Linked DNA regions of Homo sapiens: region 1 is linked to region 2. Evidence: fine-mapped expression QTL. A gene starts in region 2. The other region holds a variant in brackets. All regions are shown on one strand. Distances are from middle to middle. Region 1 overlaps PADI6 (peptidyl arginine deiminase 6). Region 2 holds the start of PADI6 (peptidyl arginine deiminase 6).

What was found.
Region 1: its variant is fine-mapped to the expression of PADI6 in whole blood (INTERVAL, PIP above 0.99).

Annotation. Positions count from the first base shown.
Region 1 is chr1:17,390,090-17,395,459 of GRCh38, reverse strand. It overlaps PADI6 (peptidyl arginine deiminase 6), which reads right to left. Exons shown (of 16, transcript NM_207421.4): 9 at 3,235-3,346; 10 at 1,378-1,485; 11 at 1,006-1,160; 12 at 353-509. Among named protein-coding and RNA genes, the nearest start is that of PADI6, 21 kb to the right of the region's middle. RefSeq lists an enhancer at 540-1,739. The variant A/G (reference allele first, on the strand shown) is at 2,113.
Region 2 is chr1:17,369,991-17,375,360 of GRCh38, reverse strand. It overlaps PADI6 (peptidyl arginine deiminase 6), which reads right to left and starts at 3,165. Exons shown (of 16, transcript NM_207421.4): 1 at 3,000-3,165; 2 at 2,128-2,305. The coding sequence starts at 3,115.

The DNA.
Region 1 (5,370 bases), 20 kb before region 2:
GGCCGAGGCAGGCAGATCCTCTGAGGTCAGAAGTTCGAGACCAGCCTGGCCAACATGGTGAAATTCCATCTCTACTAAAAATACAAAAATGAGCCAGGTGTGGTGGCATGTTTCTGTAATTCCAGCTACTCAGGAGGCTGAGGCAGGAGAATTGCTTGAGTCCGGGAGGCAGTGGTTGCAGTGAGCGGAGATCACGCCACTGCACTCCAGCCTGGGTGACAGAGCAAGACTCTCAAAAAACAAACAAAAAAAAAAAAAAACAAGAAAAAGCCAGTTTTCTCTCCAGAATCTTCCAAGATTCCCCAACAGAAGGCAAGGGTCAGATGTCCCTTCTCCAGACCCCAAAGCAGACCTTTTTGCCCTCATTCTTGTCATCTGTGGGGATGAAGCACATGAACTCATCCACGTGGCCAGTCATTAGCCAATCTGAGTAGAGCTCCACCGGCGCTTGGACCTGCTGGGCATAGAGGAAGTCTCGGAGGGTCTTACTCATGGCCCGGCCCTCTGCGCTAGAAGGAAGATGGAAAGAACAGCTCTTGAGCCAGTGTGGCCCAGGGCTGGTCACCCGCCACTTGGTGTCATGCTGCCTCCAGGGAGCTGGCCTCTGACCGTTGTGTGAAAGAGGCCGGTCCATAGCGGATGTGTTGGTTACGAATCCCTTACTCTGACCCCACTCAGAACAGAGCCTAGTGTTTCTAGACAGACAAGCCCGGGCACAAGTATCATTTTGGATTTATGGCCACCAAGAAATCCAACCACATATCTCTTGGAAATGACATCCTGGTGGACCAAATTTCACTTGTTTCAGTTTAAACCCTGGAATCAAAGAATAAATGGTTTATTCTCATCTTTAGTCTCCCACGTGAATCAAAAGCTCAAATGTCTTCAGTTTAAGAAATGGTCCAGTGTGTGTGACCTGCTGAGGTGCTATGGGAAGCAGGCGGGGCCAGGGGAACGACCATGGTCCCTTCCTTTCATTTGGAGGCGTCTGGCTTTGTGGCTCACCTGGGGTAAAAGCTGCTGCCAATGAGGACTCTGCCCAGCGGGTACTCTTTCCCTTGGACCTTGACAGGTGGGGACACCATCAGGTTCCCAATGGAATCCATGCTGGCCACTTTATGGTCCTCAGTGTCCTGGATCATGTAGCCAATACCAGGGCTCTGGGGGAGAGACCGAGCCAGGGAAGGGGTGTTAGTAGGGGATGGCTTTAGGCCCCAGTCTTATCCCTAAATCCAGGCTCTCAGGTAGACTTCCACGTCCCCTCCCCCCTCAGAGGCCACCTGGGCCCTCTCCCCACTTGGTGCCCCATTATTTCTAGGCAGGCCCCAGGCCTGAGAGATTGGACTGAGCTCAGATTAGCCAAACCAAGTTCCACACCAGTGAGTACTTCATGGGGAACTCATCGAGATCGGCGGCCTGAGGTGTGTCGAGGATCAAGGACGTTGTCTTGTGGGGAGCCTGGGTGTAGCAGAAGGCCATCTCATCCTGGAATGGAGAGGAAGACAGATTGTTTGCCAGTCACACATCTCCCCGGACCCCATTTACGGAAAAGGTACGGTAAGAACCCCCTTCCTTCCTGCCAACTCCTGCTCAACCCTCAACACCCAGCTCAGATATCACCCCTTCTTGAAGGCTCTCCGATCCCTCTCTCCCCTACTCTTCAGGTTTAAGACTTGAGCATCCATGGCCAGGTGTGGTGGCTCACGCCTGCAATCCCAGCACTTTGGGTGGCCAAGGTGGGTGGATCACTTGAGCCTAGGAATTCAAGACCAGCCTGGGAAACATGGTGAGACAGTCTACTTAAAACAAAACCAAAAAGTTAGCCAGGCATGGTGGCTCATGCCTGTAATCCCAGCTACTCAGGAGGAGGCAGAGGCTGCAGTGGAGCTGAGATCGCGCCACTGCACTCCAGTCTGGGCGAAAAAGACTTGAGCATCCAGATTCTTCCTTTCTTCTTTCGTAAAGAATCCATTAACAAGCCTTACTGGCTTACATTCTGAGTCAGCTCTGCGCTGGTGCCACTCAGGAAGCCACCGTGTCTCCACCCTATGCCACTGTGATGCCTTCCAGTTTCGCTTCTATTCTTGCCTACTCTTAAGATCTGTTCCCTAC[A/G]TCTTAGCCAGAGGGGTCTTTTGAAAACCTGAACTATAACCTTTCATTCCCGATTCATGCTTTGAGTGTCTCTTGTTTGTCCTTAGCTTAAAAGGTACCTTAACCAGGAGGTAGCCCTGCCTTTCACCTTTGTTCACTGTGATCTGTCTGCATCAGCCTTCTTCAAGACCTCCAAGCACAACCCCAGATTTTTTTTTTTCTTTTGAGACAGTCTCGCTCTGTCATCCAGGCTGGAGTGTAGTGGCGTGATCTAGGTGCACTGCAACCTCCGCCTCCTGGGTTCAAGCGATTCTTCTGCCTCAGTGACCAGAGTAGGTGGGACTACAGGCGCGCGCCACCATGCCCGGCTGATTTTTGTATTTTTTTAGTAGAGACAGTATTTTGCCATGTTTTCCAGGCTGTTTTAAAACTCCTGACCTCAAGTGATCAGCCTCCCAATGTGTTGGGATTACAGGCTTGAGCCACTGCACCCGGCCAGGAACTCCTTTTAATCCTGGCCACCCCTGCCCCAAATCTCTGCATGGCCAGCTCCTTGTTTCCTTAAGTTTCATTTGCAGATTTTCCCAACTATTCTTAAACTGCCTCATTTGGTCTAATGAATCACTGTATCATCTCATTGTCTAAATTTCATAGCACTTAAAAGTTCTATCCTTGCTAACATGGGACAGCATATGTTCCAGTTTATCTCTGGTGCTCAGGATGGCGTGCCTAGCATGTGATGATCACTCATCTGCAGAGGACAGAGCTCTAGAACCGAAGGCTGACCGGGGCTCTAGACTTGGTGCTGTGCCAGAGTCAGGCGGGACCCCAGGGCAGTGGCCCAGCTCTCACAGCCTTAGCCAAAGGTATCAGAGCCTTCCGGGGCCTGGGGGTTAGGGTTCTGTGGTCTTGAACACGTGTCCATTCTGGAATGGGAAGGAGGCTGGACTCTAACTATTCCTTAGTGGCCATGACTCAGGCAAATCCTCATCTGAGCCTCCACTGAAGTCCTAAGAACAGGGCCGCCCCTATCAAGGCTTCGGTCTTTAAGGTTAACCAGAAGCCTGTGAAGTTCCTCTTAGGTGGCACATGCTGAGTCTCCCCACCCCTCCCCGACAGGTGGGTTCCCAGGTGGGGTGTTACCTGGAGCCACCTGCCCAGGCGGTTGGGGTCCTCATAGACAGATGCCACCTGGCTGTTGCTCTTCTCACTCAGCTTCGTCACTGTGTCCACAAAACCCTGCAGCTGCAGCTCCCTGCCATGGGAGAGAAGCCAGTTCTGGGAAGGCTTTCGAAGGTCCCTTACTGGTTATGACCTCCTTGTGCCAAGAGAGGAAGAACACATCCTTCTCACCAGGAGAGGTTACATCCCTGCCCGTGAGGTCGACAGAGCAACCATCCCTGACCTCGGCACAAGCCAGAAGCTCAGAGCCCATCTTGTCTGACACTACTCAGCTTTGCCCATGGCAGAGCCAGGTTGGGAAGTGCCAGTGGCGGCCCCTTCCCTGGTAGCCAAGGCCTGCTCTGTTTATACCCTTCGGTCACATTCTGCAAGTACCCTTCCTTTCGTTCTGTCACCCAGGCTGGAGTGCAGTGGCATGATCTGACTCACCGCAACCTCCACCTCCTGGGTTCAAGTGAGTCTCCTGCCTCGGCCCCCCACAGTAGCTGGGACTATACGCCTGCCACCATGCATGGTTGTCATTTTTATATGTGTGGCGTTGGGTGGGTCTTGAGCCCTGGGGTCTTCAAGCCGTTGTGCACAGCATCAGGCTCACAGATCTACAGTGGCCATCCCTTCCTTGAAGGGAAACAGCAGTGTGTGAGGCTGATGTTAAGACCACTCATCTGGCCGGACGCAGTGGCGCACGCCTGTAATCCCAGCACTTTGGGAGGCTGAGGCGGGCGGATCACCTAAGACTGGGAGTTTGAGACCATCCTGGCCAACATGGTGAAACCCCATCTCTACTAGAAATACAGAAATTAGCTGGGCGTGGCAGTACATGCCTGTAATCCCAGCTTCTCGGGAGGCTGAGGCAGGAGAATTGCTGGAACCCTGGAGGTGGAGGCTGCAGTGAGCCAAGATCACACCACTACACTCCAGTCTGGGCAACGGAGCGAGACTCCATCTCAAAAAGAAAAAATAATAAATTATCTTAAACAAACGGAACAAACAGGTCCTCAAAAGTTGGAGGTCAGCAAGGCCCTAATATTGGGAGATATTGAAATTGGGACTGTAGTCCGGCTTCAGGTCCAAAGCTCATGTTGCTACTAATAGAATACAGCAATGTAACTACTGGCATAGCACATTCATAGTATCTATGCTACTGCTCCAAAGAACCTATTTCTTGGGTCTATGCAAAGCCACAGGGAGCTACCAGCCTGACAAGGTCTAGAACAGTCTGACGCTTACTGGGGGAAGGGTGTGTCGGCTCAGTCTTGCAGGTCATATGCAGCTATATGGGGTCAAACCATGCCTGAATATCACACTGTATGGAAGACTTGGGTTTCTTTGAAGAACAAGTAGATGCCTCCTGTGAGTGAGAAACCCGTCTTCAAATACTCGAGATACCACATCTCTCTGCTTTATGTCTTTTGTATCTGCCATCAGCAGAATCCCATCAGACTTTCTGAGATTTTACCTTCTCATCCTGAAGCCTGCTATTCCTCTGAGGACCACACTCCCCAGGAGCCCTGCCCTGGAAAAGCTGTCTGGCTTCTACACCCACGGAGCCTGGAAGAGGGGTAGAAGTCTTTTTTTTTTTTTGAGATGGAATCTTATCTGTCACCCAGGCTGGAGTACAGTGGTGCAATCTTGGCTCACTGCAACCTCCGCCTTCTGGGTTCAAGAGATTCTCCTGCCTCAGCCTCCCGAGTAGCTGGGATTACTGGGGTGCACCACCATGCCTGGCTAATTGTTTTTTGTATTTTTAGTAGAGACGGGGTTTTACCATGTTGGCCAGGCTGGTCTTGAACTCCTGACCTCAGGTGATCCGCCCGCCTCAGCCTCCCAAAGTGCTGGGATTACAGGCATGAGCCACCACACCCAGCAATTTTATTTTTTGTTTTTGAGACAGTTTCGCTCTTGTTTCCCAGGCTGCAGTGCAGTGGGGCTATTTCAGCTCACTGCAACCTCTGTCTCCTGGGTTCAAGTGATTCTCCTGCCTCAGCTTCACTGAGTAGCTGGGACTACAGGCATGCACTACCACATCTGGCTAATTTTTGTATTTTTAGTGGAGACGGGGTTTTACCATGTTGGCCAGGCTGGTCTCGAACTTCC
Region 2 (5,370 bases):
GCCATGTGCCGAGTCTAGGCGTGGGATCTTGGTCTTGTGTTATGGCTTCTGAAGTCTCACCTATGAGCTGGTATGGGGCCACAGCCCTGCGCTTAGGGCTGAGTCAGTCCCCTAAGGACTTAGAACCTGCCATGACCCCCAACCCTAACCTTGTCGAGAGCCAGGCTTGAAACCACCTGTCCACGTGAGAGCTGTATCCCTGATGGCGGGGTGATCAAGGGACTTATCCCAAAGGGATTTAAGAAACAGGCTGCCTGGCTCTAGAGCCCAAGCTTGAAACCACACTATACATCCTCCCTGCTAAACCCACTCTCCTGGGGTCCCATGTCCTACTCCATAAGGTGCACGGTGGGGAAACAGGCCTCTGGTGGCTTAAGCTGCTCACTAAGAAGGACACCCAGGTGAAGAAGCAGCGTTGGGACTCAGTCCCAACTGTGGGACTGTGTCCCACACCAGCCTCTACTTTATGCTTTTAGAAAGAGACCTGCCCTCCAGCCACTGACCCTGACCACAAGGTCTTGGTCATGAACCAGAGACCCAACCATTGGCCAGAGCATGTGACAGATCCACCCCATCCTTAAATAGAAGCTTTAGTCCTCTAAGTTCAAGGTTCTTTGTTGGCCACTCCTGAGGGTCCTGGAGGCCGAGCCCTGGGCAGAGAATGGTTCTCAGGTAGTCTGGAGTTCCACTGGCACCCACCGTGGCCTCCATTCTTATCTGAGATACCTTTTTTTGCGATGGAGTTTTGTTCTTGTTGCCCAGGCTGTAATGCAGTGGGACAATCTCAGCTTACTACAACCTCCACCTCCTGGGTTCAAGCGATTCTCCAGCCTCAGCCTCCTGAGAACCTGAGATTACAGGCACCTGCCACCACACCTGGCTAATTTTTGTATTTTTAGTAGAGACAGCGTTTCACCATGTTGGCCAGGCTGGTCTCAAACTCCCGACCTCAGGTGATCTGCCCATCTCAGCCTTCCAAAGTGCTGGGATTACAGGCATGAGCCACCACACCTGGCCAGAGACACTCAGTTCCTACCTAAGTCCACTACTTGCCTCTCAGGGAGTTGCCTGCCCTGGGCACACAGCGCAGGTGGGTGTGTGTACCTACCCCTCTGCAGCAGACATCTCCAGTAGGTCCTGTAGGGTGTGGGGGGAGGGAGGGAGAGCTCTCCCAGTCCTGAACTGCTCCATCATGGTTCTCACCCCCAGCCCCGCACTGGGTGCACCTGGAGAGCTTTAAACCAGCGGCCAGGATCCTAGCCCTGAGGTTCCATTGGTACCTCAGGTTTAATTGGTAGAGGGGGTGTGGCCTGGGTATTGATGTTATTAGCTCCCCAGTGGTTCTCACCTGCAACCAAGGTTGAACACTCCTGCCCTGAATGAGCCACCTGCTTCTACCACAGGAGAACCTCCCCAACATAGGCACCCCATTAGGGAGACAGCTTACCCAGGGGAGAATACACCCTTGGGCTCAAGCTCAAATCCTGGGTCTATCCCACTCTAGGTAGGCTACTTAGGTTTAGACACAGCACTCTGTGCCTTAGTTTCCTCATATGTAAAGTGATGGTAGGCCAGGTGTGGTGGCTCATGCCTGTAATCCCAGCACTTTGGGAGGTGGAGGCAGGTAGATCACTTGAAGTCAGGAGTTTGAGACCAGCCTGGCCAACATAGTGAAACCCTGTCTCATACTAAAAATACAAAATTAGCCGGGCATGGTGGTGGGTGCCTGTAGTCCCAGCTACTCGGGAAGCTGAGGCAGGAGAATTGCTTGAACCCGGGAAGTGGAGGTTGCAGTGAGCTGAGATTGTGCCATTGCACCCCAGTCTGGGCAATGAGCGTGAGACTCAAAAAAAAAAATAATAATAAATAAATGAAAATAAAAAATAAATCCCAGTCCTGCTGGTTGCTGACTTGGCAGGGCACCTTCGCTAGGTGCCTCTGTTTCTTTGTAAAATGGGGTCATGGAGTGCCCACACCACTGGTCTGTTGCAGACACTGGATGAGATCAGACGTGCAAAACAACGTGTTTCCCAGGCTCGAGTCACGTCTGCAGCCAGGAGGAAGCCCCAGTGGCTGTGCTAGGTCCCACCCCGGGAGATGCCCCTCACCTCTTCCCCTGAGGCTTACCTTATCCGCATCCACGGAAGGGCTGGGCGATGTCATCTTCACTGTGGCGTACGTGGGATCAGACAGGGGCCACCAGATGGTGGCGTCCTCCTTCTCAGAAATCACCGTGTTGGCCACATCGATCAAGACCCTCCCAGAGCCATGGATGGTGAAGCACTGGCACTTCTGGGGGGCACACCTGGTTTGCCCGGTAAGAGACACGCGTCAGGGCACAAACACCTTCTCAGCCTAGGAGATGACTGGCATGGGGGAGGGGACGGCTCCCGAATCCTCATTCTCCTTAGGGTGTTGAGGCAGAGTGGTCTGGGGTCCTTATTCCTACCCACCCCCTCCCAAAGGACCCCTGTGTTTGCTCTCCGACGGGCTCCAGCCCAAACCCCATCCCGCTACCGACACTGCAGAAGTTACCACAGCTACATCTTAGTAATAAGCACCCAATTCCCAAGAAGGGGGGAGCCACAAAGGATCCCCATAAAGAAAAAGATCAGGGCAAGCGACTCAGGAAGTTGTACTGTGACCCTGCTGAGTCACCTCCACCTGCAGGCTCCAGCATCTAGCAGTCTCCCTGGCCTGCTCCTCACAGCCCCCCGAGGCCAGCGTCCCCATGGTTTCACAGATAGGGGAACAGAGAGGCCAAGGCCCTTGCCTCACTAAGAGTCCATGGCAGCTGCTACAGGGCAGAGGCAGGATTTAAGTCAGAATTCTGCGTGGTTGGAACTGGGAGGCCCCCCACTAGAGACCCAAGGCTTCCCAAGATGGGGCAGGATAGTGAGGCTAGAGAAGTAACCCCCAACTCCCAGATCAAGGGGACTGGGTCCCAGGCCTGCCTGCCTGTCTGCCTGCCACCTCTGGCAGAGCTCCCAGCATCTCACCCGCTGAGATCCAAGCAGATTTCTGTGCCCAACACACAAACGGCATGGACAGGGCTGTCCAGGGACAGGTGGATGATACTCTGGAAGGACATGGCTCGGCCCTCCACGCTGACCATCCTCAGGCCTGCACCGCAGCCCTCACTCAGCACAGCAGCCTCAGACGCCCCAGGGCTCACCCTGCCCTTCCCTGTTATACAGTCCAGGCCTGTGCAGGCCACCCCCTTGTTAAGAAGGGGAGGGGTCAGCAGCTGCCCAGGTGTCACTGATTTTCCCTCTAAGAGCTTCCTGGTGGCTGATAGTCTGGGGAGCAGGTGGCATCAGAACCCCTTCATCACCAATTTATCAGGCACCTCGTGCCTGCAGAGCTGCAGGCCAGGGGAGTCTGAGGCCGGTTGCTTAGGCATCTGTGGCCTTCAGCTGGGAAGAGGAGGGGCTCTGGGAAGTCGGTGCCTTGGAGTGATCAACTTGGCCATGTTGCTGGAGGACTCAGCTGGAAGCTGTCGGGGCAAATACCTGCAGAGGGCAGTTGGGAGGAGTTGATGGTAGCAGTCAGGATGGCAATGTGTGGCAGCATGCCCAGGCTCTGGGGTCTCAGTTCTAGGGTGTGTGTCTCCTGGAAATTGACGAAGGAGCTCGGCAAAGTGCTGGACTGGTGGTTTGGTTTTGTTTTTGAGACAGGGTCTCTACCCATGCTAGAGTGCAGTGGCGCAATCATAGCTCACTGCAGCCTCAACCTACCTGGCTCCAGTGATCCATCTCAGCCTCCCAAGTAGCTGGGACTACAGGTGTGCACCACCATGTCCAGCTGATTTTTGTATTTTTTGTAGAGACCGGGTTTTGCCATGTTGCCCAGGCTAGTCTCGAACTTCTTGATCCCAGAAATCCTCCTATCTCGACCTGCCAAAGTGCTGGGATTACAGGCGTGAGCCACAGCGCCTGCCTAGACTAGGTGGTTATTAACCCTCTGGTGGTTTCAAAAATTATCAAGGGTGCTTGTTAACATTGCAAATTCCTGGGCCCAGAAGGTCTAGGGTGTGGTCCAGGAACCTGCATCCCAACCCCCAGTGATTAAGGTGAGCTCTTTGCTTACAGCTGTGTCGGTGGGGGTGGGGGCACAGCAAGTGTTAGTGGAATGAATACATCAAGCCAGGGTCATCAGCTGCTACTCATCTCAGCGGAGCCCACAGAGCAAAGAAATAGGAACCCTTCTCTGGCACAAGGAACTTACATAACTGACTTTAAAATTGTGTTCATTTCATGTCTTAAGCTTGGGTTGAGTTTTTTTTTGTTGTTGTTTTTGAGACAGGGTCTCACTCCGTTACCCAGGCTGGAGTGAAGTGGCGTGATCATGGTTCACAGCCTTGACCTCCCAGGCTCAAGTGGTCTTCCCACCTCAGCCTCCTGAGCAGCTGGGACTACAGATGTGCACCACCATGCCCAGCTAATGGTTTTACATTTTTCCGCAGAGATGGGGTCTTGTTATGTTGCCCAGGCTGGGTCATGCTTACTCCTGAATAGGTACCACAGTCACATGATTCCAAGTTCAGAGTCTCCCTCCTGCCCTGTGCCTTACCCACCTGCAGGTGGAGGTAGTGACAGTGTTACCCGTTTCTTATATGTCTTTCCAAATAAATGTTATGCATGACCAAGTAAATATGTGTGTGTATCCTTTTCTTCTTCTCTTCCTCCTCCAATACTAGCATACAGTTAGATAAATTTGAAGGGGCTTTATGGTGAGAAAGGGAAGGACGTGGAGTCTATTTTAAGGTTAAGGGAAAAAGGCTTCTGCAGGTTCCTTCGAGGTTACATCTCGAGACTAAAGAGAAAAGTTGTAAAATGTGCTCAAAGTTAAGCTGCTTGGTTACAATTACAAACTTTTCAGTTCAGTGGAGATGCCCCTGGAAGCCCATTGGGTTATCTTTTTTGAGGAAGGACAAGGAGGTCATTTAGTCATTTGCTCCACTAGAATTGCTGAACACCTACTATGTCCGGGGCGCTTTTGCTCTTTTCTTCTCTCCTCCTACTACTGTCTTCTTATATAAACGGTAGTATGTGCCACCCAGTATTCCATACCTTGCCTCTTTCACTTCATAGTTATACTGGAGAGAAGTTCTTTGTATCAGTACGTAAAAAGCAGCCTTACCCCTTTGTACAGCTGTGTATTTTACATAGGGTTGTACTGTAATATAAACATTTGTTTTCAGCCTTTGCTCTAATATGCACCCAGGTGTACCCAGCATAGGAGGTGGAGATGAGGTACTGAGTGAAGCCTGTTCGGTCAGCCAGGCTGGCTAAATTTGCAAGTTGCAGTAAAAAATTCCCTCCCTGGAGGTTTTAAGCACTCAACACAACTCTCAAGGATGTCTCTGTT